Linked DNA regions of Homo sapiens. The protein of the gene in region 1 interacts with the protein of each later gene in a biochemical or structural test. Each region holds a gene or a part of one and is shown in the gene's direction. Other genes may lie near its edges.

Region 1 (7,025 bases):
AGGCAGGCATATCACTTGAAGTCAGGAGTTCCAGACCAGCCTGGCCAACATGGTGAAACCCTGTCTATACTAAAAACACAAAAATTAGCCAGACGTGGTGGCACACACACCTGTAATCCCAGCTACTCAGGAGGCTGAGACAGGAGAATGACTTGAGCCTGGGAGGTGGAGGTTGCAGTCAGTTGAGATCGCGACACACCACTCCAGCCCGGGCAACAGAGTGAGACTCTGTCTCAAAAACAAAACAAGGCAAAAAAAAAAAAAAGGAGAGAGAGAAGGGGTCCTGCTGTGTTGCCCAGGCTGGTCAAACATCTAACATATCTGCCTCAGCCTTCCAAAATGTTGGCATTACAGGCATGGGTCACTGTGCCTGGCCAGGAGTGAATTTTTAAGTGGTAAAAGCAGGCCAGGCGTGGTGTGCATGCCTGTAGTCCCAGCTACTTGGGAGGCTGAGCTGAGGTGTGAGAATTGCTTGAGCCTAAGAGTTAGAGACCAGTTTGGGCAACACAGTGAGACCCCATCTCTTAAAAAAAAAAGCTGGGCACAGTGACTTATGTCTGTAATCCCAGCACTTTGGGAGGCTGAGGCGGGCAGATCACCTGAAGTCGGGAGTTCAAGACCAGCCTGGCCAAAATGGTGAAACCCTGTCTCTACTAAAAATACAAAATTAGCCGGGCATGGTGGTGCATGCTTGTAATCCCAGCTACTTGGGAGGCTGAGGCAGGAGAATCGCTTAAACCCGGGAGGCGGAGGTTGCAGGGAGCTGAGATTGTGCCACTGCACTCCAGCCTGGGTGAAAGAGCAAGACTCCGCCTCAAAAAAAAAAAAAAAAAAAAGGCCTGGCACGGTGGCTCAAGCCTGTAATCCCAGCACTTTGGGAGTCCGAGGCAGGCAGATCACGAGGTCAGGAGATCGAGACCATCCTGACTAACACGGTGAAACCCCGTCTCTACTAAAAATACAAAAGAAAAATTAGCCGGGCGTGGTGGCGGCGCCTGTAGTCTCAGCTACTCAGGAGGCTGAGGCAGGAGAATGGCGTGAACCCGGGAGGCGGAGCTTGCAGTGAGCCAAGATCGCGCCACTGCACTCCAGCCTGGGTGACACAGCGAGACTTCGTCTCAAACACACACACACACACACACACACACACACACACACACACACACACACACACAAAACGGTGAGTTAAGCAACACAGTCTGCCACTGTTTGTCATAAAACTTGGGTTAGAACAAGCATCTTTATCCATATGCGGATTATTTCTAGAGAAGTATCACAGTAATAATTGGGGACTTCTAGGCTGGAGGGCCCATATATGGGAGGCTTTTTCCTGGCTTACCTCTTACAACTTTCTGAAATATGAACCATGTGTAAATAGTACTTTTTTTTAAAGTTAAAAATGTTTTGAAATGAAAAACGTACAGGCCGGGCGTAGTGGCTCACACCTGTAATCCCAACACTTTGGGAGGCTGAGGCAGGTGGATTGCTTGAGTGTAGGAGTTTGAGACCAGCCTGGGCAACATAGCAAGACCCCATTGCTATTAAAACACACACACAGAGGCCGGGCGTGGTGGCTCACACCTGTAATGCCAGCACTTTGGGAGGCCAAGGTGGGCAGATCACCTGAGGTCAGGAGTTAGAGACCAGCCTGGCCAACATGGTGAAACCCCGTCTCCACTAAAAATACAAAAAATTATCTGGGTGTGATGGTGAGCACCTGTAATCTCAGCTACTTGGGAGGCTGAGGCAGGAGAATTGCTTGAAACCGGGAGGCAGAGATTGCAGTGAGTCGAGATCGTGCCACTGCACTCCAGCCTGGACAACAAGAGCGAAACTCTGTCTAAAAAAAACCAAACCAAAACACACACACACACATAGAAAAAGACTGTGGAGCTGACATCACGTGGAGTGTTTGGGAGGTCAGGAATTTCACAGTCTACCCATGAAATCCCCTCCTACCCCGCAGTGCAAGGAGGAAGTGGTGAGCACCTTGGATGCTGTGCAGGTACTCTCGGGCGTCAGCCAGCTCCTGCCCAAGTCCCGCGAGAACTACCTGAACCGTTGCATGGACCAGGAGCGGCTGCGGAGGGAGAGTACCAGCCAGAAGGAGATGGACAAGGTGGGCTCACAGTGGGGGGGTTCTGAGGAATTTGCCGCGGGGCGGAGGGGCTGCCTGATCAGAGAGTGGAAACACATCCCAGAGCGACGGTCCTGGAACCTGTGGGTGATCACACCCTGGGTACCCCGAGGAGTTCACCTGCCAGGTGATGGGGCCTGGGGGAGGCCCCCTGAGTATCGCCCTCCCATCCCCGTTTCCTCCCTGTGCTTTGTAGGCGGAGACTAAAACCAAGAAGGCGGCAGAGAGCCTGCGGCGCTCAGTGGAAAAATACAACTCAGCCCGAGCTGACTTTGAGCAGAAGATGCTGGACTCAGCCCTGGTAAGAACCAGGCATCTGTACCTTTAAGACCCACACATGCCTTTGCCCTGGAGGTTATGGACTGCAGAAATCCCAGGCAGGGTGTGGTGGCTCACACCTGTAATCCCAGCACTTTGGGAGGCCGAGGCGGGAGGATCACCTGAGGTCAGGAGTTTGAGACCAGCCTGGCCAACATGGCGAAAGCCTGTCTCTACTAAAAATACAAAATTAGCCGGGCGTAGTGGCAGGTGCCTGTAATCCCAGCTACTCAGGAGGCTGAGGCGGGAGAATCACTTGAACCAGAAGGCGGAGGTTGCAGTGAGCCAAGATCGAGCCATTGTACTCCAGGTTAGGTGATAGAGTGGAACCCTGTCTCGAAAAAATAAAATAAATTCAAGCAGATTGGAATCTGAGGATTAGGAATCAGAACTTTTTTCAAGTTACAAGTGATAGAAGCCTTCATTCAAACCGACAGGTGTATATAAAAAAAAAAAAGAAAAGAAAAGAAAAAGGCTGGGCGCGGTGGCTCATGCCTGTAATCCCAGCACTTTGGGAGGCCGAGGCAGGTGGATCACGAGGTCAGGAGATCGAGACTATCCTGGCTAACACGGTGAAACCCCCTCTCTACTAAAAATACAAAAAAATTAGCCGGGCGTGGTGGTGGGTGCCTGTAGTCCCAGCTGCTCAGGAGGCTGAGGCCGGAGAATGGCGAGAACCCAGGAGGCGGAGCTTGCAGTGAGCCGAGATTGCGCCACTGCACTCCAGCCTGGGCGACAGAGCGAGACTCTGTCTCAAAAAAATAAAAAATAAAATAAAAAATAAAATTTAAAAAAACTGACAAGCTCAGGGAACTGTAAAGTTTTATTTTTGAGTTGTGGAGGTTTCAGTCATAGCTGAATCCATGTGCTCAAATAGTGCTGGCAGGAAATTGTGAATTTCTGCTTCTTTTATTTTTTTGAGATGGGATCTCTCTGTCACTCAGGCTGGAGTGCAGTGGCGTGATCTCAGCTCACTGCAACCTCCGCCTCCTGGGCTCAAGTGATTCTCCTGCCTCAGCCTCCCTAGTAGTTGGGATTACAGGCACGTGCCACCACACCCAGCTAATTTTTGTATTTTTAGTAGAAACGGTTTCACCATGTTGCCCAGACTGGTCTTGAATTCCTGACCTCAGATGATCCACCTGCCTTGGCCTCCCAAAGTGCTGGGATTACAGGCATGATACACCACAGCTGACCACTATTTCTGCTTCTTAAGTCTGTTTTTCTCTCTGGGGACATCACTCCCACACAGACATCCCCTTGTGTGTGTGTGTGTGTGCATGTGTGTGCAAGCATGCACATGTGTGCATCAAACTGGGCACCAGCAACCCCCACTTACATCCCATCAGCACATTGGCTCAGGAATGGAAGTGCCTTTTCCTGTAGAGTCAATGAAAGTCCTAGGGCAGACTCTCATTGGCCCTTCCCCAAATCAATCACTGAGCCAAGGGCTTAGGGTATTCTGATTGGTCAGGCTGAGTCATATGGCCACTTCTTCTTGGCCCTGACCTCCTTTCCACCTGCCTCTGCCCTCCTGCTTCAGCGCTTCCAAGCCATGGAGGAGACACACCTGAGGCACATGAAGGCACTGCTGGGCTCATATGCTCACTCGGTGGAGGACACGCACGTGCAGATTGGGCAGGTGAGTTGGGCAGGTGTGAGGAATGAGGCTGGGGTCACTGCTGGGCAAAGGGGCCTTGACCAGTTACACACCCCGCCCACCCGGCACAGGTGCATGAGGAATTTAAGCAGAACATCGAGAACGTCAGCGTGGAGATGCTACTCAGGAAGTTTGCAGAGAGTAAGGGCACAGGCCGGGAGAAGCCTGGTGAGTCAGGGCAGCCATTGGGGGTCGGGCTTCGGGGCCACAGCTGCAGACAGGCATGTGCCACCATGCCCAGCTAATTTTTTTTTTATTTTTTTATTTTTAATAGAGACGAGGTTTCACCATGTTGGCCAGGCTGGTCTCGAACTCTTGACCTCAGGTGATCTGCCTGCCTCGGCCTCCCAAAGTGCTGGGATTACAGGCGTGAGCCACTGCACATGGCCAGGCCTTGGTTTCTTCATGGGAAAAATGGGCTGCTGACAAGTCCAGCTCTCCAGCCTGATCTTATGTGTAAATGTCTTTGAACCAGATCCCAGAGGAGCCTTGAATGCCAGGCTTGGCTGATCAGACTTCACCCCCAGGGCCTAAGGGAGCCATTGAGGGTTGTTGAGCAAAAGAACAATTTGGGAATGCGCAGATGCAGGACTGGGAAGGAGTTAAGAGCAAAAGTTTTAGAGTGAGACGTGGGTTTGAGTCTTTTCTTCATCGCTTGCTGTGTGACCTAGGACCTGTGCTTTGACTTCTCTGAGCCTCAGTTTCCTCATCTGTAAAGTGAGGATGTAATAATGTTGCAACATTCAGTGATTTCATGCAGGTAAAGGGCAAAGGGTGTGCCAGGCACACAGTAGGCACTCACTAAATGCTGGTATACAGTTACGTCCTCAAGTCTTGTTAACTAGCAAAACCTGTTCTTTCTCCCTCCTGTCGCTCTGGCTCAGGCCTGGCTCAGGTCTCCCCTCCCTGCATGGGGCCCCACTCTTGCCCTTCACAGGCCCCAGATCTGTTTTGTCCTCCTCCTGCTCACACACCTTCCATGGCTCCCCATTGTTCTTGGGAGAGAGTTCCCACTCCTTATCCTGTCACTCAAAGCCCAGCCCACTGCACAGACGCATGGTCCATTCCCCGACCCAACCCAAGTTCCAGCCACAAATGCTGGAAGTATGTAGAAGTAGCTCATGTCACCCCCTGCGGTGGCACTGCCCTGCTGGAACCAGACCAGCCCCTTGGTCCATCCCACTTCTGATGATGTGGGGCTGGTTCTTGTCCGGGAACCTGATGGACCTTGAGTTCAGATCCAGGTGCCATTTTGTGGCCAAAAGTGTACTACCCTTTCCAAGCGCAGTCTCCCCACCCTCAATTTAGTTTCTTTCTCTCTCTCTCTCTCTTTTTTTTTTTTTTTTAATTTTTTTGAGGCAGAGTCTTGCTCTGTCACCCAGGCTGGAGTGCAGTGGTGCAGTCTCGGCTCACTGCAACCTCCGCCTCCTGGGTTCAAGCGATTCTCCTGCCTCAGCCTCCCCAGTAGCTGGGATTACAGGCGCCTGCCACCATGTCCGGCTTTTTTGTAATTTTAGCAGAGACAGGGTTTCACCATGGTGGCCAGGCTGGTCTTGAACTCCTGACCTCAGGTGATCCGCCCGCCTTAGCCTCCCAAAGTGCTGGGATTACAGGCATGGGCCACCGTGCCCAGCCCCTCAATTGAGTTTCCGTCTCCTGTCTCAGGACCTCTGGACTTCGAGGCATACAGTGCGGCTGCCCTGCAGGAAGGCAAGTACGTCTGGGCCTGGATGCCCAGGCTGGACCATGGGGGTGAGGGAGGCTGATCTGAATGTGAAAGGAGGCTCACAGTGCTCAGGTGCCCCCCAATCTATCCTCAGCGATGAAACGTTTGCGGGGAGCCAAGGCCTTTCGCCTTCCAGGACTAAGCCGGCGGGAGCGGGAGCCAGAGCCACCTGCAGCTGTGTGAGGAAGCACCCCTGCCCGGTCTGGCCCAGGCTAGACCGAGATCCCCTCCCCTGCCCAGGCTATCCCAGAAGTCCCCTCCTAGGATAGCCCAGGAGTATCCATATTCCAGGCTGGACCAGGATTCCCTCTACCTGAGCTAGACCAGGAGTACCTCTGCCCCCGGCTAGCTCAATATTACCGCTGCCCAAGCTAGTCCAGAATTCTTCCTTTTGCTAGGTTAGGCCAGGAATTGCCTGTCCCAGAGTAACGTAGCATCTTCCCTGCCCAAGCTGGCCCAGGATTGTTCTGTTTGCCAAGGCTAGCCCCGACTTTCCCTATCTTCACAAGGCAGCCCTTCAAATGAGTTCCAGGATTCCTTCCCTCCCAGGCTGTTTGAGAACACTCTCTACTCAGCTAACTTCAGATTCAACCCCCTCCCCAAGCAAGCCCCATGGTCCCACCGCCTCTAGGGCTAGCTCAGGGCAGTATCACAGTCTGGGAGCTGCCCCAGCTTCCATGTCCAGTGTTGGGGGCTGACAGGGGGCACCAGATGGGCTGCGGAAGCTGACACCAACATCTCTTCCTCCATCCCCAGAGATTTCCTGGAGCCCGATTCAGGGGTGAGTGATGTGGGAGGGGTCAGGCTGGGCTACAAGTGGAAGGAGTTTGATCCCACTCTTGGCTCCTAGAGTCCCGATCCCTACTGGAAACTAAAGAGCCGAGATTGAGGGGCGGGCTGGAGCCTGGGGGCTGGGTTCATATCCCACCTCAGCTGCAAAGTCCCATGGACTACGTGGGTGTGAATAATGTCCCTGCCGAAGCTCAGTTTGTCCCAGGAACCTGCCCACACACCCAGGGAAGACAGTCGTTGCCATCAGGGTTGGTTTTGAGGTCTGAGTCAAGGCCTGGGGGCAGGGCGGGGGGCGGTTGGCAGGGTGAGATGGAAGGTTCGATAGTGGGGCGCCTGACTCACTGCTGCCCCCTGACTCCCCTAGACATGTCCAGAGGTGGATGAAGAAGGTT
Region 2 (7,303 bases), on another chromosome or scaffold:
GACCCGTGTATAATTGTGTATAATTCCCAGCTTTGTCATTATGAATTTGGACAAATTCTTCTTCTGTTAAAAAAAAAAGATTAAAAATAACCCTTGTAGAGCTGTTTTGAGGAATAAATGAAATAATGCACATTAAAGCAGCAATTTGTCTGGGTGCGGTGGCTCACACCTATAATCCCAGCACTTTGGGAGGCTGAGGCAGGAGGATGACTTGAGCCCAGGAGTTGAAGACCAGCCTAGGCAACATAGCAAGACACTGTCTCAAATAAAATAAATAAATAAATAAAACAAAAAAAAGAAAACAGCAATTGTTGGTTATTAGTATTCAGATTTAAGTCATCAGATACAACTTTGTTTACCTAGGGAACATCTACTTTTTCAATGACAGGGATATGTCAGTTGTTCAAAGCACCCTTATTCTTATTTATTTATTTATTTTTATTTGATTGATTTTAAAAAAATAGAGACGAGGTCTCACTATGTTGCCCAGGCTGGTCTTGAACTCCTGGGCTCATGCAATCCTCCTGCCTCGGCCTTCCAGAGTGCTAAAATTACAAATGTGAGCCACCTGGTCTGGTCTGGCAGACCCATTCATGTAACTAATATATCTGTCAAACCAACTTAGTTGTTGGAGGGTTGCCTGAAGGGTAGAGAGTTAAATGGTGATCTTGAAGAATGGTATCTTATAGCTGCTACTTATTGAACATCTATTCCAGGCCAGTCTCTCTGATAGGCCATTATACATGAGCTCTAATCCTTAAACCATCCATACAAAGTAGATATTATTATCTTCAATGTAATCATGAGGAAAATGAGGCTTAGTGACCCAGAGACATTAAGTTGTCCTAGAAAAAACAGATAAATTCTTCTTGTCTGCTCCATGCAACTCATTCTTGTTATAATGAATTAGATTATAACATATATTCGATTGGCTACATTTTTCCTCTCCTAAAATAGATTTGGGATATGACCCAGTGCTCTGACGAGATCTGGGCCACACATTTGCAAATTGTCATTGGTTTGTCATTAAAACAAACAAACAAACAAACAAACAAAAACACCTCTCTCAGAAGTTCTAGGCCTTTTTTGGGAATTTGGCCCATTATTCTCTTCCCTATAGACATGCTCCCATCTCCCATTACATGTCATTAATTTAAACCAGAACCTACGAATGAAGAAAGAAGCCACTACAAATTACTAGTGGTCTGGAAGGGGACGTGGGGCAATTCCCATATAAAGATTTTAAGCAAGTCTTCCCTTGCTAGGGCATCTGATTCTTTTTATTTTTTGTTAACCAAGACCCAAGCCTGCTGTCAATGGCTCTTACTTATAGAAGCTATTTATAAAATAAATTTATAAAATATTTGTTCCTTGATTTTCTTATGGGGATAAAGTGAAGATCCAAATAACAATTATATATGAGATTGTATTCAGTTCAATTCAACAAACTTTTATAATGTACTTACTGAACATTAGAAGTTGTGCTTCTAAACATTTGGCCGGGCACGGTGGCTCACGCCTGTAATCCCAGCACTTTGGGAAGCCGAGGCAGGCAGATCACTTGAGGTCAGGAGTTCGAGACCAGCCTGGCCAACACGGTGAAACCCTGTCTCTACTAGAAAAAAAAAAATTAGCTGGTGTGGTGGCGGGTGCCTGTAATCCTAGCTACTCAGGAGGCTGAGGCACAAGAATCGCTTGAACCCAGGAGGTGGAGGTTGCAGTGAGCCGAGATTGCACCGTTGCACTCCAGCCTGGGTGACAGAGTGAGACCTTGTCTCAAAAAAATAAAAATAAAATAAAAACATTTATAAACGGTGAAAAGCAATACTGTATACATACAAGGTGTTATTTATTTATTAGAGATGGGGTCTCTCTATGTTGCTCAGGCTGAATTCGTGCTCTGTGCAACTGCCTCAGTCTCCTGTGTAGCTGGGACTATAGGCATGTGCCACCATGCCTGGGTAAGGTGTGCTTTTGACTTAATATAAATCATATAAAAGTTAAAACAGTAATAATTCCTTACTTTTCCTGTATGAGAAACTGAAGCTCAAAGAGGTTAAATGGTTTGCCTGCGGTCACACTCTGATTCTTAATATTCTCTTTGCTACTCTGCACTGCCTTTCCGGAAACTACATGGCAGGGTTTCCACCTTATTCATCTGAGAGGAATATCTTACATCTCATATGGTTTGGAGGAGTCCCCTTGAATAGCAAGTGAAATTATACTCCCCAAAGCGATTTGCTCCATGATTTTCAGATTTCATAATTTGTGTAGCTACAAGTTTAGGCACTTTTGTATATGTCATCTCATTCATCCTCACAACAACCCTAAGGGCATACAACTAGTGAATGGGAGAGCCAGGAATGGAACCTGGATATTCCTAATGTCTGAGTCCTATTTATTTCACTATACTATGCTGCTTTGTCTATCAGTTGTATAACCCTGGGCAAATCACTTAGCCTCTGTGACCCTGCATTACCTCATTTGTAAAGTGAGTATGACGATTACTTCCTTTTAGAGTTGTGAAGCTCAAATGTGCTAATATAAAGTAGAAAACACCGGTAGAAACACCGGTTGTGGTTATGGCTGATAAGTGTACCAAAGTGAAGTAATGTAAAACAGTATCTCTTATTCTCTCTTCAGTTAAAGAGATTAGCAGCAAAAAAGAAGCCAAGGAAGATGCTCTTGAATAAGTGGTTACTCACCAGACCTATATGGCTTGCTCTTGTTAGCTGGCCTTTGCCAGAAGGAGTCTGAGTAGAATTAGGAGTTCCTTGGGAAATTTCTGGAATGGTTTGCTTGTGGAGGCAATAGTCTAAAAACTTAGGTGGGGCTAACTCCATCCTGGGTCTTGTTCAGTTGTCCCTCCTACCACGGGGACTGCTATGATAATGGTAATGGGTGTAGGCCTGATAGAGTTGTGGTTTGTTGTAATGGGAAGCCATCGTGACTAAGAAATTAAGACCAATTCGGGCAAATACATTTATTGAGGCCTCTGTGGTAGGCTAAACTATGAGGGAGATAAAGCAGTGAGTCAGCCCCTTGTCCTCAAGGATTTTACAGTGCAGTGAGGTGGAGACAAACCCTCAACTAACGCTTACAGATAAGGCAGAGTATAAAAACGGTCACATCAGAACAACTTAGAGGTGGGGTGTGGAGTTCCTAGAAGGCTTCTTGAAGTAGGTGGTATATACTCTGAGACTTTGAAGATGAATTTCAAGTAACTGGGTATTCCAACTGAAGGTTGGCAGCATCAGAAGGTGTAGGATGTGTTATGTTTAATATAGGCAGGAACGAAGGCCTTTACTGAGCATGCACTGTAATGCTAGGGTCTGACGATATAGAAATATATTGAAAACAGTTCTTGCCATTGAGGAGCTCTTAATCTAGAGGGATAGATAGGTGTAAACTGTCATTAGGGTGATGACTTCACAAGGTAGAGAAGAAAGGTTATAAAGGAGAGTGTGTAACTCTGACATAAGGAAGAGAAAAAGATACTTTGCAAAGGAGGTGAAACTTGAATTATGTCCTGAGAAAGAAGGAGGAGTTTGCTAAGTGGATGATGGGAGAAGCTAGGAGTGCTACAGGCACCAGCGTTCCCTTGTTAAACAATCTAAATGTGACAGGCACCAGGCAAATACATTTTTGCTTCCCCTTTCCAAATGGATTTTGGCTGTGGGAGGGAATGACTTAATGTCTTCTTTTCCAATATACTAGCAGATGGTTAAATATTTACAGTTAGACTTGGATTCTAATTCAGCTATATAATTAGCTGTATGACCTTAGTAAGACACTTATTTGTGTTTCAGTTCCTTCATTCATACAATTCAAAAAATAAGAGTCTAGTACAGAGCCTGGCATATATAAAGTGCCATTATTATTTTCTATCATTATCTCATTTAGTCTTTGTAAGTAACTGGGCCTCTAGTTACAATTTCCCCCATTTTTCAGAAGCAGGAGCTCAGCGTAGGTAGGTGGCCTGTCTGAAGTTCACAGGTCAATCTGCAGTCGCCTCCGCAGCCCGTCCGCTTTAATTTTATGTCCGCGCCGGGTTTTCCAAGGCGGCCCCGGGGGCAGGCTCTGGTCCGGTGGCCGAGACTCCGGCGCCAGGGTTTGGGCGGCGCCGCGGCCGGCTCCGGCGGGCGGGCAGGCGGGCGGGGCCAGGCGGGGCGGGGCGGGCGTGGGGAGGGAAGTTGTGGAAGTTAGGGGAGACGCCCGCCCGCCCGCCCCGGCCTCGCCTGCGGCCGCTCCCTCCGCCTCCTCCCCGCCCCGAGCCCCAGTCAGCCCGTCTTCCTTCCCCTCCCTTGCATGATGGAAACACCATGGCTGCGGCGGCCCAGCTCTCTCTGACACAGGTAACGCCACACGCCCGTCCGCCGGGCTTGGCCGGCCGGTGCCCCCTCCCCCACCGCCCTCAGCTTCGCCGACTTCTTGGCTTGTGGGCCAAGCAGGCAGCTTCTTGGCTTGTGGGCCGGGCGGCCGGTGTGTGTGAGGGAAAGCGGGTGCGACTGCGGGAGGGCGCCCTCCGGAGCCGGAGCCCCCCTGCGGCCGCCGCGACCTCGCCCAGGGTCGTCGGGCGCCTCCTGCCCCGCCCCGCGCGGCCCTCGCCGCCCTCCGCGCCGCTGCCGAGTGGACTGTGACCCGGCCGCGCTCTGCCGGTGCCGGGCCGGCTCCCGCGGGGCAGCTTTCACCTACCCAGGAAGTTTCCTCCCACAGGGCCGCACGCATCCCAGGTGAGCTCCTGTTGAGCTCGCGCGGGCCGGCCGCACCCCCGGGCCGCACGAGGCTCGCCCGCCAGGCCGGCTGCGCGCCGCCCCCAGTAGGAGTTGCCTTCCAGAGCCGGACGCGCAGGCCCCCCAAGCCAGTCTTTCCTCTCCAGACCTGCCTTTCTCCCAGGGTCCGACGGAAGCCCTCCCTTCCCAGAGTTTAATGTAGTTAGCCTCGCCTCCAAAGAAGTCTCATCCTACTCAACTACCCACTCTGCCGGCCCCTTCCTCCGTTCAGCCTCTCCCCCCTCCTGATCAGGTTTCCTTCTGGGTCAGACCCCCAATGCAGCCTTTTGCCACCCACGTCTGCTTCCACTTCAACTTCCCCTCGGGGGGCTCACGCCTGATCGCTGTCCAGGTGGATCCCTTTAACGGGTGTGGTGGCTCCGCCAGTCTTGGTGCCAGGAACGGCCTCCCGGGGAGCACTTTTCTTGGGGGGAATCCTCAGCAAAACCTGTTCTCGAGCTTCCCTCTTGCCTCGTTGCTTCCTGTCAAAGTCCAGTCCTTGTGCTTCTCAGAAAACCTCTAAACATCACTCACACTGGGAACCTGGTCCCTCCCTCTCTGTAAAGAAGCCAATTACAATGTAAACATGGTGTCCGGGATGATAAGGTGACAGACACCTGCCAGTTCCTTCCTGCTCCTGTGACCCAAACTCTCCCCCGCGTCTCCTCAGACGGTTCTCTCCAGAGCTGGTGGCGCGTGCTTCCCGATTGGGGCCCATCCCGTCTTCCTTGCCTGCATTGTGGTATCTCACTGCCATCTTGTACTCCTTGGCCTAGATTCGTCGGTGCTTCTAAGGCTTTAGCGCTGGGATAGGGCAAACATTTCGGCAGTGGAGTTTTCTGTGTTTAAAATCAAGAGGCTTTGGGGTGCTTTGCCTAGCACTGTAGGATAGAGAGAAAAAAATGTTTTCTCAGAAACCAGGAGTCACGTACATGCTTCATGTAAAATAACTAACCCGTGTTTGCAGGAATTCTAAGTGTCATAAGGAAAGTCTATTTCCCAGTTTTTTTGATGGTGGTGGTGGTTGTCCTGTTCTGACAAGCAGAGAACCCTTTAACATGGAATGTGGTGGTTTAGTCTTGGTTATGTATGTTTGGAAGGGTCCTCCCAAAACTCAAATTTGAACAACTACAGCACTGACTTTTAGGTATTCACTTTCTGTGAGTCTAGTTAGTGACTTGCATTAAACAAGATCCCTGTTGGCAGGCTGTTGTTTTCTGGCTCTGTTGGCCAATTCTGGCAGGAGTTTTCCCTTGAAGATTTTGTGCTCTTAAAGACTTCCGTAAAATTGCTTCTCAGTTGTGTGCATACTTTATTCTCTCCCTGGGTAATACCATGTTTTTAGCTTCTATTTACATCATTCATCTCTGGAGAATTGCTTCAAGCTCTGTCAGTTTTATAGCCATTTAAAAAATTTACATATGTTCTTGGGTTATATATTTAGGTATTAATGTGTACACAGTAAGTACGGAATCAGTAGTAGCTATTATCCTTCAGTGCCTCACATATGAGATAATATACATTGGTGGTTAATTTTTATTGATAATTCAAATAAGTAAATTCAGAATATTCTGATTTTAAAACATGAAGAGGCAATAAGAGGGATTACGAAGGCACACGAAAAAATAACATTTCCAGTTGCTAGTATACCCTAATGTGCCTCCTTGTTACTTCAAAACTTTGCAGATTTGTGGTTTTTAAATTTAATTTAATTTTTTTATAACTGCCTGAGCCCAATACACTAAGATAACAATGCAGCCTGGTTTCACATTCATTACTGACCCGTTTGTCATCCTCTGTTCCCCCCACCCTGCCCACTCTCCCAGCACACACATTTAGACATAGGCATACTCAAGTGAGAGCTCATTCAGGGCAGGGACATCTTTTAATCCATCTTTCTCCCATGGTACCTATCTGGAAGAAAGTAATTAATAACTGTTGTAGGAATGACTGAAAGCTCTAAAGGGTTCTATAACAGTTATGGAGATTAAACATGCTCAAGTTAATTTCTGCTTCTGTTCATATGTTGATGATTTTCATTCAGCAAATATTTTTATAGTACCTATTATGTACTAGACATTGTACTGGGATTATCGTGTTTATAATTTCTTGCCTTTACCAATTAAGCAAAACTGAGTTTGGGGAAAAAATGTGAAAAATGTTTTAGCTTATGCCTTCCTTCCTTTTTCCAAGCTTGCCAACCAACCCTTCAACTCCCCAGCCACCAAAATAAATTATCTAAATTATTATAGTCTAGCTTCTAGAGATGATAGAATGCTAGAGTACCAAAATGTTAGTTCCAGTTCTGCTTTGGCCACAGCTAACTGTATGGGTTTGGGTTAAATATCCAGGCCTCAGTTTTCTTAACTTTAAAAGAGACTCAACAAACATTTGCTGAGCATTCAGTATGTGCTAGGAATTACTCTAGGTACTGAGGATATATATACTCATGAACAAAAATAGTTAACAATTCTTTGACCTTGGAGACAAAACCTGGAACTTATTTCTGCTAGAGGAGTTTGAATTAGCTG
Region 3 (7,025 bases), on another chromosome or scaffold:
AACAAGGAGAAAAGGCAAAGACCTCCTTTAGAAAACCATAGCGTCATAAAGTTCCTTACAAATTCTATTTCGTCTGTTTGTAACTTTAAGGCTTTGATGAACTAGGTGGACTTCTCAAACCAACAGTGGCCTCTCAGAACCAGAACCTTCCTGTTGCCAAACTCCCACCTAGCAAGTTAGTATCTGATGACTTGGATTCATCTTTAGCCAACCTTGTGGGCAGTAAGTAGTCTTTGGATACGTTAATCTTCTTTTATGTTGTTTTATTAAACTGCGTCTCGTGTTATAAAATGCTTTTTTGTTTTTCTCCTTTCCTAGATCTTGGCATCGGAAATGGAACCACTAAGAAGTGAGTGTTTAATATACACATTGTTTTCTCCGTGTGTTATTTAGTGTTTTCTCCATGTGTTATTTGGAGGGTTGATTTGGCTTTCCTCTCAAAAATATGTGTAGAGATATCAAGTCTGCATCTTTTTTTTTTTTTTTTGACACGGAGTCTCGCTCTGTTGCTCAGGCTGGAGTACAGTGGCGCAATCTCGGCCCACTGCAAGCTCCGCCTCCCGGATTCACGCCGTTCTTCTGCCTCAGCCTCTCAAGTAGCTGGACTACAGGCACCCACCACCATGCCTGGCTAATTTTTTTGTATTTTTAGTAGAGACGGGGTTTCGCCGTGTTAGCCAGGTTGGTCTCAATCTCCTGACCTCAAGTGATTTGTCCACCTTGGCCTCCCAAAGTGCTGGGATTACAGGCATGAGCCACCACGCCCAGCCTCAAGTCTCTATCTTACTCTGTTCTATATAAGTATATAGCTAAGGAAACTTTATAATTAGAGACATTTAATATTCTCACTTATGTTTATTTAAAGTGATGTAAATTGGAGTCAACCAGGTGAAAAGAAGTTAACTGGGGGATCTAACTGGCAACCAAAGGTTGCACCAACAACCGCTTGGAATGCTGCAACAATGGTGAGTTGAAAAAGCTCCTGATAGACTAACAGTTGAATAATTTAGTTAAATATGTAACATGAAAATGTTTTTAAAGTGATAGACATAAATAGAAGGATTGTTACTGAGTTTAGAAGTATAAGTAATTGTATTTCTTTCAAAGGAAGCTGGTTGCCTATATTTACCAGATACATTTTAGTGGCTAACAAGTATTTAAGGGTTACTTTGTGCCAGACATATTCCAGTAAATAATAATGTTTTATTTTTTATAATCCTCCTATTAATGTGTTAGTCACTATTATTATCCCTATTTTACAGATGAGGAAGTGGAGGCTCAGAGTTATTAAGCAATGTGCTCAGGATTACAGAGATCTTAAATGATGAGTTGAATTTTTATAACCTAGGCAGCCTAACTATAGAACATATGTCCTTAATCACTACTCTATATTACTGACCTCAAATTTTTTATTTATTTTTCTAAAATACAAAATCTTGTGATTTCATTATTGGTAAAGAAACTATACTTGCTTCGGTTTTGTCATATAATTTATATATATGACAATGTGTTTGGCAATTATATATATGTCATATAACTTACACAGTTGATACTCATTATTTGTGGCAGTTAAGTACTTAAGTCACCCCAAACACTGAATTAGTGAACACTGAACCCTTGCTGGGGGAAATATATGCATATATGTATATGTCACATAGACGGTCCTTTTAGAAAACCTCATTCTAGTATATTCTATTTATTTTATGAAAGAGGAAATAAAGTTCAGAAGTGTTAAGTGACTTGCTTAAGGCTGTCGCACTAACTGGTGCCAGAGTTGGAATTTTAGCCCTGTCCAGCTGGCCCCAGAGTCAGAGTTTCTTGCAGTATGATGGACTCCCCATCCTCCTTCTCTATCCTCTGGTCTGGTATGAGAGCTGAACCAAGGCAGAGTGTCCTTTGTTCCATCTCAGCTGGAGGTGAACTGTATTGGATGAGTCAAATTTTTGCCCCTCTGCAAATGAGCATGAATGGCCTTGAAAGCACCAGGAGTGTTGATTTTTGGTGTCACAAAGTTTATCATGTAGGTGAATTTGCAAATATGGAATCCATGAATAATGAGGATTAACTGTATTTTCTAATTAAATAATTAGCATCTAGTAATGAAGAGGTTTTAGTATGTTTTAATTACTGTAAGGTATGGTAGACCCAGAATAGCTCTGTGGCTATTCTCCTGTCCTTGGCCAGTTTCTATCTTACCAACCAACAAATTTTCGTCAGTCAAAGAAAACTCCTTGTGGAAAAGTTTGAAGCATTCTTTCTCCAGACAGTAGGCTAGTAGCTGTGTTTTGATTACACGGGCTACACGTTACTGACAGCTGTCCTGTTACTGTTAGAGGCTGCGGTTGTCCTTATAGCCACTTCCAGAGCACTGCCCTGTTTTCCGTGGGTTAATGATATGTTAAAATTAGTAGGACTGAGCTAAAAATAGTATGTTTGTTAAAATTTGTGCATTTTATTATATAGCTTAAGACTTCATAAATGGAAAGTAATATTGAGATTTAGCTACCTTTTTAAGGCAGTGTTTTTTTGTTGTTGTTTTTGTTTTCTTTCAGACAGTGTTCATTGCCATCACTAATTTTATTATTTTGTATTTTTTTTTTTTTTGTGACGGAGTCTTGCTCTTTTGCCCAGGCTACATTGCAGTGGCGCGACCTCAGCTCACTGCAACCTCTGCCTCCCAGGTTCAAGTGATTCTCCTGCCTTAGCCTCCCGAGTAGCTGGGATTACAGGTGCCCACCACCAGGTCCAGCTAATTTTTAAATTTTTAGTAGAGACTGGGTTTTATTATGTTGGCCAGGCTGGTCTTGAACTGCTGACCTCAAGTGATCCACCCGCCTCAGCCTCCCAGAGTGCTGGGATTACAGGCCTGAGCTACCACGCCCAGCCTATCATCACTGATTTTAAAACTTTGCATTTAAGTAGTTTAGATTTTTATACACACAAATACACAATCTTAAACATGTAAATGTTGCTGTCTTGAGGGAATTGGAGCATGTATCACCCCACTTCTAAAGATTTTTTTTTTCCCTAAGTGCAAAGCAGTTGAAAAGCAGATTTAAGTTGAAATCCATCTCTTTGACTCTGAATCCAGTCTTCTTCCCACTATAACACACCTCACTGACTAGGGTATGGTAGGAGTTTAGAGTAGTGGATTTTATGGACTCGTGTGAATTATGACATTGATGATGTATGAGGAATGATATAAATACCAGTGCTGCTATTAAAATATAATGAATATTTTCTTATATTAAGTTAGTATTAATCTATATGAAGTATTAGGAGTTCATAGATAGCACTTAAGACTGACTACTAAAATGTAGTAGGTATTTAGTCATGTAGAATTTGTATTTAAGTTGATAAGGTAACAGTCTTTATCTTGCTGTGTTATATATGGTAATGTGTATCATCTCCTAAGGATTTTGCTTAAATATTTATATGTATTTTATGGAGTTTTCTTTTTAATGGCTAATGTTTGGGGCTGATAATGTGATTCACTACTTAAGATAAACTGCTGCTTTTGACATTTCTTTACATTTCTAACCTTTTTATTAATCCTTAAACACTGTCAAGGTTTTTCAGTGTTTTTTAAATTTAACACAAATTCATTGGAATTTTATTAAAATATATATTATACTACAAATTCTTTTAATTAGTGCTTGCTTTTTTTCTGTGGTAGACATCTGATGCAACCCTGTTTATGCAATGCCCAAAATTTTGCACTGTTGACACTGTTGATAGAATTGATGTTTTAATGGTACTTGTAATCAATAAACTATTTTTTATATAAAGAGATGAGGCCAAAGACTACAATTCCCTTGTCAACCTTGATAGTGTTTTAGTATAGATGTTCTTTCATTAGATACTGGAAATACAAGGGATTTTAGGTAGTTAGTGAATGTACATGTGAACTAAAATGCTCTCTGTGTATTTTCTGTTGTGTAAGTACTTGTTCTAATCCAGTGTTATTGCATTATGTAATTGTTCTCCCTGGGAAAAACAGAATGGCATGCATTTTCCACAATACGTAAGTGACCAAAAACGAGCCTTTTTGCAATAAATTGGCATGCTATTAACCACTGCTGTAGCAGAATCTCATAACCTTTCAGCTATTACTTGTTTTCACATTCAGATTTTCAATGTGCCAGAAATTCTTCCTAGCATCTACTGATTTCATGGGTGTGTTGCAGAATTGATTCTGATGGTGGCATGGGAAATACCGATTTTTTTTCTTGCTTAATATTCCGCCATTTGCTGCCAGATGGCTGGGTGTCTGTGTGTGTATCTGTGCTGCCACTATGCACTTGATGACTTCTGAATGAAGGGAAATGTTGATTGTGGTAATGTTTAAAATAACAACTGCATGAAATCTTACAGGCTTCTGCTCTTCTTGGCAGTTTGTCTACTGCTCTTGCAGATCTTGGTTTTAAGTAGGGAGAGACCAATAAGTCCTACACGCTCACCCGAATACTAAACTTATAACTATTCACTTTAGTGTTATTTTTTTAAAGTTATATTTCATTTAATTTCTCCATGCATATGTTCAAATTGCCATATAATTTCAGTTATTTTATGTTTTAGCAGTGTTATTGGTCTTTCACCTTTATTCAATTTCAGTTTTCATTATGAGAAACACACACAGGAAATGTTGTTAAGACAGCAACTATATCTAAAATGATTCTGTTCTCAAATTGTATGTTTACAGATAATCAAAGTAGTAGGAAGAGGGGAACTTAAACATCATAGTGATAGATGGTTCTTTTAAACATGAAAGCATAAACTGACCTAATTGATTGTTCCTCTTAAATAATTTTTGGAATAAATTAGAAAGCTAACGTACATACTCTATATAAGAACTATGGCTCATAGAAATAGTCATACTCAATAGTAGTTTGAAACCTTTGGAGTTTTTTGAAAAGAGTGAGTAAGATCCTTAGAAACTAACTTTTTGGAAGATCAGGTTATTGATTGATTTGAGATCTTTACATTTTTTTCTTTGAATGCTAAAGCAATCAGGTACCTAAGTAAGAAAACATTCAATAATACTTTTTCTGGGTAGACATTTTTTAATGATAGTGATAGGCTTTAAATTTTAGAACTATTTAGAACTATTTAAGATACTTTTTTAAATCTAAAGATTTTTAAAGCTGTAAAAAGCATGATGAAATCTTAGATCACTGCTGTATCTAAGTTTAAGTGGTATAGTTATCCTTCTAATAAGTCTGCTTTTCTGCTAATTTCAAAACACTTTTTTTCACTGACCATTAATCGACAGTTCTTAATGATCACAAGTGTCACTTACTCACAGCTGTCTTAGCAATTCTTTTTAGTGGAACTACAGCTACTAATTCCTTGAACTCAGTTGACACACATGAGTTATACTTTCTTGTTCATTTTTCCTTTCACTATGTTAGGCACCCCCTGTAATGGCCTATCCTGCTACTACACCAACAGGCATGATAGGATATGGAATTGTAAGTATTTTCCTAGGTACAGCTTTTGGAAAAAATATTGATTCATATATAACATGTTTTTATTACAATTTAACCTAAAAAAGAATTTAGTGCTCCTCATACTCCTAGCCCTAGTGCCTAATGCAGTAGAACCATAGCATTGGTTTCATAAGTATGTCTAGAATAATCATTATACAAGAGATCTTATGCATTAATGTTCATAGTATTACTTGGTTTATTTTTCTCCTCGTAACTTTGCTGGGCCTTTTATATTTCAAACATTAATGTTAATTCTAAGCCTTTGTTGCTGTGACCATATATTAAATACCAGTGAGGTCTTATAACCTGATATTGTAGGGCATGGGAGGGATTAACACTTGAATTGTATAGAGATAAATTTAGTCTGATAAAGGCTAGAGAAATTTTCCTGTGACAATGATTATTACAGTACAAAAACAGTCTTTTAACCTTTCAAAATGCCACAATGTGCATTTTAGATTGCCCTTAGTTTCCCAACTCTCAGTATATAGAGACTCAATTAGAAAAGAAATGGTGCTAGTAGCTTCAACCCACTGGTATGTATTTGAGGAACTGTTCCTGGTAGAAGGCAGTACCGTGTCCCTTGGTATTGCTACTGTGCCTGCTATGTTACTTCTTTATGTATATGATATGGAAGTAACTCCTTTTATACATGTGGAGAAGTTTCACAGCTTTTTTTCATAGTCATTGCATTAAAATGTCTGCTGAGGCTGGGTGTGGTGGCTTACGCCTGTAATCCCAGCACTTTGGGAGGCCAAGGTGGGTGGATCACCTGAGGTTGGGAGTTCAAGACCAGCCTGACCAATATGGTGAAACTCCGTCTCTACTAAAAATACAAAAATTAGCTGGGTATGGTGGCGCACACCTGTAATTCCAGCTACTTGGGAGGCTGAGGCAGGAGAATGGCTTGAACCCAGGAGGCAGAGGTCACAGTGAGTTGAGATCATGCCACTGCACTCCAGTCTGGGCAACGGAGCAAGACTCCATCTCAAAAAAAAAAAAAAAAAAAAAAGTCTGCTGAGAAACTCAGGCCATAAACTTAAAATGAAGCTCTAAATGCAAATAGTAGTCTGCTTGAAACAATAAATAGAACTTCTTGAAAGGAAAGATTTTAGAGCATTGCATTTTAACCAAAACAGTATTCTGTTTGTGCATTATTTTTACACTAGGTATTGTCACTTACTAGGTTAATTTTATACCCTGTAGTGGTAATTTTTAAAGAAACATATTTGGTTGAGATTGTATTTTCAGTTACTCAAGAAAGAGTTAACCTCTGGTTTGTAGTTTAAGCTCTTTCTTGATTCTTATATGAAATAAAATGGAAGAACTAGAGCAGGCTTATTCAGAGAATCAACTGTCTTCACTTGTGATCACTTGCATAATGGCAAAAGTACTTGATTTGTTATACAAATTTACTTTGAAATTTCTTAGCAGCGAAGACAGAGTCTTAAGTTTTCTTGATGTCTAAACCTGATAAATTTGGAAACTCTTAGTCTTAATCATTTTATCTGTTGTAATACAATAAAGTTTACATTT

The links.
Region 2: the proteins of FCHO1 (region 1) and EPS15 form a complex in vitro, tested with the Homo sapiens proteins (2 studies listed by BioGRID).
Region 3: the proteins of FCHO1 (region 1) and PICALM form a complex in vitro, tested with the Homo sapiens proteins (one study listed by BioGRID).

What each region holds. Positions count from the first base shown.
Region 1 is NC_000019.10:17,768,459-17,775,483, forward strand, and holds part of FCHO1 (F-BAR domain only protein 1), read left to right. Parts: intron 1-1,966; coding exon 1,967-2,119; intron 2,120-2,333; coding exon 2,334-2,438; intron 2,439-3,998; coding exon 3,999-4,097; intron 4,098-4,186; coding exon 4,187-4,283; intron 4,284-5,780; coding exon 5,781-5,825; exon of another isoform or gene 5,826-5,829; intron 5,830-5,935; coding exon 5,936-6,020; intron 6,021-6,597; coding exon 6,598-6,622; intron 6,623-6,997; coding exon 6,998-7,025. UniProt on the Homo sapiens protein: Functions in an early step of clathrin-mediated endocytosis. Has both a membrane binding/bending activity and the ability to recruit proteins essential to the formation of functional clathrin-coated pits.
Region 2 is NC_000001.11:51,516,251-51,523,553, reverse strand, and holds the start of EPS15 (epidermal growth factor receptor substrate 15), read left to right. Parts: upstream 1-4,287; 5' UTR 4,288-4,322; coding exon 4,323-4,355; intron 4,356-5,107; exon of another isoform or gene 5,108-5,282; intron 5,283-7,303. UniProt on the Homo sapiens protein: Involved in cell growth regulation. May be involved in the regulation of mitogenic signals and control of cell proliferation. Involved in the internalization of ligand-inducible receptors of the receptor tyrosine kinase (RTK) type, in particular EGFR.
Region 3 is NC_000011.10:85,975,069-85,982,093, reverse strand, and holds part of PICALM (phosphatidylinositol-binding clathrin assembly protein), read left to right. Parts: intron 1-90; coding exon 91-222; intron 223-318; coding exon 319-349; intron 350-865; coding exon 866-965; intron 966-4,000; coding exon of another isoform or gene 4,001-4,024; intron 4,025-5,411; coding exon 5,412-5,471; intron 5,472-7,025. UniProt on the Homo sapiens protein: Cytoplasmic adapter protein that plays a critical role in clathrin-mediated endocytosis which is important in processes such as internalization of cell receptors, synaptic transmission or removal of apoptotic cells.